2 separate regions of the Homo sapiens genome follow, and region 2 is linked to region 1. The links come from fine-mapping of genetic effects on gene expression. A gene starts in region 1. The other region holds a variant in brackets. All regions are shown on one strand. Distances are between the middles of the regions.

Evidence for each region. PIP is the estimated chance that this variant, and not a neighbour inherited with it, causes the effect.
Region 2: its variant is fine-mapped to the expression of SUB1 in whole blood (INTERVAL, PIP 0.90).

The regions. Positions count from the first base shown.
Region 1 is chr5:32,584,195-32,587,106 of GRCh38, reverse strand. It overlaps SUB1 (SUB1 regulator of transcription), which reads right to left and starts at 1,550. Exons shown (of 5, transcript NM_006713.4): 1 at 1,482-1,550. RefSeq lists silencers at 967-1,236, 1,277-1,376.
Region 2 is chr5:32,528,252-32,531,163 of GRCh38, reverse strand. LOC124900954 (a long non-coding RNA gene) reads right to left here. Exons shown (of 5, transcript XR_007058719.1): 3 at 1,781-1,918. Among named protein-coding and RNA genes, the nearest start is that of SUB1, 56 kb to the left of the region's middle. The variant G/A (reference allele first, on the strand shown) is at 1,087.

The DNA.
Region 1 (2,912 bases):
CTAGGCATAAATTAGCTAATTTCTGTATGCGTTAAAGGGCCTAATAAACACATCACACACTGTATTTGTTTAATACAAGAAAAAAAGACTTAAAATTCCTCCTTAAAAAAAAATCATAAATAATCTAGCTCTCTAGATGAAACTTGCATTAGCACTGACATTGCATATGTTCCAAAATAGGAGGTCAAGGAAAAAGAAGTGGGCCACCCCAATCCTAGCCATTAAATTCAAAAAGCTCAATCTGATTTTAACTGGTAATGTCTTCAAGGGTAAATTCAGAAGGGAAAAGCAATGTTCATGACCACGTTTTATCCGTTTTTCCTGTTTCTGCTCCATTTTGCAACCTCATCTCTAAAATCAATTTAGTTAAGTTTTTTATGCTAATTAATACGACAAAAAGATATTTTTTAAAAAGGTAATTAAATTGAACATAATTTTTCACTTTGAAACTGTCGATCATAACTACCGTCTGTTATCAAAAACTGCCTGGGGGCCTAAGAATTTTTCAAAGAACCACCTGGTACTCAACCCAAAGAAGTCCACTGGAGAAGAAAGGTAACGGTAACTAAAACCAGCCTCTAAACTTTTAACAAATATATATTTACCTTAATGAGCCTGTTCCAATGTGGGGGTGGGGGGAGAAGCAGCTTGTAATTCAAGTAACTGATACTGAAACCACTATTGTAGAATTTATACAAAACGCAACTTTAAAAAGAGAAACGAAATCTTCAGCCTTTGCTGATTGAGGGAAAGATCAGAAAAAAACGAGGTGAAAATGAACCAGGACTGAAGGGCACACGACTTCGGTATAACAGGAAGGTGACAAGCACAAGACCAGGGAAGGGGTCGCGCGGCCCCAGCAAGCCGCTAGAACCCCGTGGCTAGCAGCCGCTCGGGCGAGGGGAGACAGGTTGGTCGGAGGGGGCGTGGGAGGCGGCGAAGTGCGGAGAAGACGGCGTGGGAAGGGGCGGGATTTGCACCAAGCGCCATTTTCTTCTCTCGAAGCGTTCCCTCCCCCTGCACATCAGCCGTTCTTCCCCCGGCCCCCTCCCGCCCGCATCCGCTCTCCCAGTCTCCAGAGCGCCCCGCTCAGGGCGAGGGGCGGGGGAAGAGTAGGTAACCGCACGCGCCCCACCTAGGCAGGCCGCCGCCGCATTGTCCCGGGGACGCCGCGACTCTCTCCCCGCGACTCCTCACTCCCCGGCCGCCCTCAATCTACCGCCCCGGGCCGCAGCGCCCGCCGCCTCGACTCGGCTCCCCGGGGACAGGAGTCTACCGCGGAAGGGCCCACAGCGCGTCAGGCGTGGAGTCAGAAACGGAGAAGGGGGCCGGGGACGCCGAGGGGAAGGGGGAGGTAAGGCAGAGCCGCCATTTCCCGCGGCCATTGCCGGCGAGAGGAGTGGAGGGCCGAAGGCAGCTCACGGCCCGGCTGGGAGGGTGGGGGCCCCGAGGAGTAGGGGTAGGGGGTCCCGCGCACTCACGCTTCGCTCGGCTCTAGCAGTCGAACACCCTCTTGGTCGTTCGCTCGCGACTGACAGAGAACCGGAAGTGACGGCAGCCAGGAGACGCCGGCCCCGCCGCGCTGGGGCTGCGGTCACGTGATGGGGCGTGGCCTCCCCACAGAAACCAACACTTAGACCCTTTCCAGGGCCTTAAAGGGACCGCGTCTCTTCCTAAATGGGTGACGCGAAAGTCAGATGTTGGAAGATTACATCTGACCCTTGAGAGAATGAAAGAGCTAATATCCTTCCTGTAGGAGATAGCTTAAAAAAAAATTAAAAAAAAGGAAAACGCCAATAAAACATGAGTGACAAGCGCCAAGCTTTGCGTTTGTTCAATAAATGTTTACTCTAATGAAGCGAAGGGGTCATAATGAAAAAGATCAATACTCTGGCCCATTTTCCCAGAAATGGTCTTCCTACCCCACTTCACCCACCTCAATACATGCCTCTGCCTCCTAAAATCCAAAGGAAGGAAGCTAAAGTCACAGCGTTTAATTCCAGAAAGTGCAAGAAATCTTTGGAGTACTCCTTATTCCTGTATTGAAGTCCTGGAGATGTAAGGGAGTTCACAGAAGGCAAGAGGAATCCATATACAAGCAGGAATATAGCTAAAAGATTATTTGAATATGTATTTGAATGAATACTTCCTACAGCTAAGAATCAATATAAAGGCATATCTATTAACAAAGATTTATCAAGCACCCACTACGTGTCAGACGCTGCAGGAGGCAATTTACATTACTCATCCTAACAAGCATGTTCCAAAGCAGAAATGACTGTTCTCTCCATTTTATAGACGAGGAAACCAAAGTTAACGCCCTATGGAGAGGATATTTCCTGTTACAGCTGAAGCGTGAATTGTCCTTATGTTCTCTCCCTCCAGACCCTATTTTCCTGCCTCAGGTAGAGGAATGGTATGGGATTTTACAAAGTAGAGGATGGAATCCTGTCGAAGCTCAGAATTGCACATCGGAGATGCCACAGAGGCTAAGGAAGGGCAGTGGGTTGCAGAAAGGGAGGAGTGTTTGGATCTACATATGGAGCAGTTAGACCTGTGGTTCCCACCCATCCCACCCTTATAGGAGAAGAGAGTTATATATTCCCTGCAAACATTAAAGCTGGGAGCGGAATGTGTAATGGGGTTGAGACGCAAAGAACACAGCGGATGGAATCAAAGTCTGAACACTAAACGTGAAAGCATCCCCCACACGTCCCTTTCTAGAATTACCTGACTTTTAAAGGATTAAATGCTGACAAAAATACAAACTAATCCCTTAGTTTGTTGTGAAACTCTCCATCATAATGAAATAAAAGAAGCCATGAAAATAAACACTGACATCAGGCGCGGTGGCTCACCCCTGTAATCCGAGCACTTTGGGAGGCCGAGGCGGGTGGATCGCCTGAGGTCAG
Region 2 (2,912 bases), 56 kb after region 1:
GCTGGTCTCATTTCATACTTGCGTTGTCCTGCCCCCTAGCACTCATCTGTTGTTTGTAAAAACTGGGCTCTTGCTGGGCGTGGTGGCTCATGCCTGTAATCCCAGGACTTTGGGAGCCTGAGGCGGGCAGATCACGAGGTCAGGAGTTCGAGACCAGCCTGGCCAATATGGTGAAACCCCGTCTCTACTAAAAATACAAAAATTAGCCAGGCGCGGTGGTGTGTGCCTGTAGTCCCAGCTACTCAGGAGGCTGAGGCGGAAGAATCGCTTGAACCCAGGAGGCGGAGGTTGCAGTGAGGCGACATCGCTCCACTGCACTCCAGCCTGGGCAACAGAGCGAGACTCCATCTCAAAAAAAAAGAAAAAAAGAAAAAAACTGGGCTCTCACTTTCAAATTCTCCTTCACACCCCATCTCAATTATTTGTGGGAATCCTCACATGGGCTCTCATGTATAATCCACAGACAAAAATAGGGTCTGGGAAGTAAGGGGAACAAGGGTAATAGAGTGTCTTGGCTCAAACCAGGGATAAGCAAGTCACAGGAAAAAAATCTAGGGACTTGACAGCAATCATCATCTTTTTTATTTTTGAGATAGGGTCTCGCTCTGCCACCTAGGCTGCAGTCCAGTGGTGCGATCTCGGCTCACTGCAGCCTCAGCCTCCTGGACTCAAGCCATCCTCCCACCTCAGCCTCCCAAGTAGCTGGGACCACAGGCGCATGCCAACCATGCATGGTGAATTTTGGTTGTTGTTGTTTTTGTTGTTGTTTTGAGACAGAGTCTTGCTCTATTGCCCAGGCTGGAGTGCAGTGGCGCAATCTTGGCTCATTGCAACCTCTACCTCCTGGGTTCAAGTGATTCTTGTGCTTCAGCCTCCCTAGTAGCTGGGACTACAGGTGTGCACCACCAAGCCTGGCTGATTTTTGGTTTTTTAGTAGAGACGGAGGGGTGGGGGTGGGGGGTTCGCCATTTGGCCAGGCTGGTCTTGAACTCCTGACCTCAGCCTCCCAAAGTGCTGGGATTACAAGCATAAGCCATTGTGCCCGGCCCAGACTTTTTGTATTTTTTGCAGAGACAGGATCTCACT[G/A]TGTTGCCCAGGGTGGTCTTGAAGTCCTGGGCTCAAGCGATCCTCCCACCTCAGCTTCCCAAAGTGCTGGGATTACAGGCTTGAGCGACTGTGCCAGGCCACAATCACCATCTTGAAAACAAGGTTTGTCCACCTCAGTTTGCCTGATAGGGAGTGAGAGGAAAATCTAGACAGACTTCACAGAGAAAATGAAACATTGGCTGGCTCTCAAAGAATGAATGCTGGATCCAGTGATGATGGCTTTGGGGGAAGACCTGATGAAGCAGATGCCCCTGTGCCTTGCCCCCCAACAGACTGACCTCCCCTTTCCAAACTTCAGTTGGAGCACTTGTACATTCATTCTATATTTTTTAGTCTTCTATTTTTTTTAATGTCCTAATCTTAGAATTAAGGCAAAAAGATAATTGTATGTCCTTTCACTGTCATGCTGGAGCATTGTCCGAACAGGTCCACCCAAGTGTTATTCATCTGGAGAATGTACCTTTGTTTGACTTGTTAATTATTATCATTAGGGTCCAGATTCTATGAAGTTACGTGTTAACTTGTAGGTTTTTGTCTGTTAGAGACCCAAATGATTCCTATTCTACAGAAAAGACAATCCTAAAGATTATAGTTTATTAACCTGTAGGACATAAACTAGATTTCCCTTTAACCTAGCTAACTTATTTCAGCATGTCTTTTCTGCTATACAAACCTCTGTTCCTTGAATTCTCCTTCAACCAGATTTATTATCTTTCTGGTCTCTTCATTAAATGAGTTAGATTGATATTTGACACATGCTCACTATATATTTGATGGCAGCATGTTTTTTACTCTTAGAGGGAGACTTAGCCTAAAAAAAAAAAAGGAAAGAAAAAAAAGAAAATTATCCTTTGGCACTCATTTAACAAATATTTATTGAACAACTTTTTTTTTTTTTTTTTGAGATGGAGTCTAGTCCTGTCGCCCAGGCTGGAGTGCAGTGGTACGATCTCAGCTCACTGCAACCTCCACCTCCCAGGTCCCGGTTCAAGCAATTCTCCTGCCTCAGCGTCCTGAGTAGCTGGGATTACAGGTACCCACCACCACGCCCAGCTAATTTTTGTATTTTTAGTAGAGATGGGGTTTCACCATGTTGGCCAGGCTGGTCACGAACTCCTGACCTCAAATGATCCACCTGCCTCAGCCTCCCAAAGTGCTGGGATTACAGGCGTGAGCCACCGCGCCCGGCCTATTGAACAACTATTATAGGCATCTTCGTCTGTTTAGGCTGCTAGAACAAGAATACCATAGACTGGGTAGTTTATAAACAATAGAAATTTATTTCTAACAGTTCTGGTGGTTGGGAAGTTCAAGATTACAACACTGGCATGTTTGGTATCTGGTGAGAGCCTACTTACTGTTTCACAGAAGGCCTCACAAGGCAAAAGGGGCAAGGGAGTTCTCTGGAGCTTCTTTTATAAGGGCACTAATTCTATTTATGAATGTACTACCCTCAAGATCTAATCAATTCCCAAAGACCCACATCTCCTAATATCATCACACTAGGGGTTAGGAGTTCAACATATAAATGTTGAGGGAAGCCTGGGCAACAATGGCAAAACTTCATCTCTACAAAAAAAAAAAAATATATATATATATATACACATATATATATAAAACATAGATTTATATATATAATATATATTTATATCTATATACAGAATATATAGAATATATATTCTATATATATACACACACATATACACAAAAAAATAGCCTAGCATGGTGGCGCCCATCTGTAGTCCCAGCTACTTGATGTTGGCACCCATCTGTAGTCCCAGCTACTTGGAGGGCTGAGGCAGGGA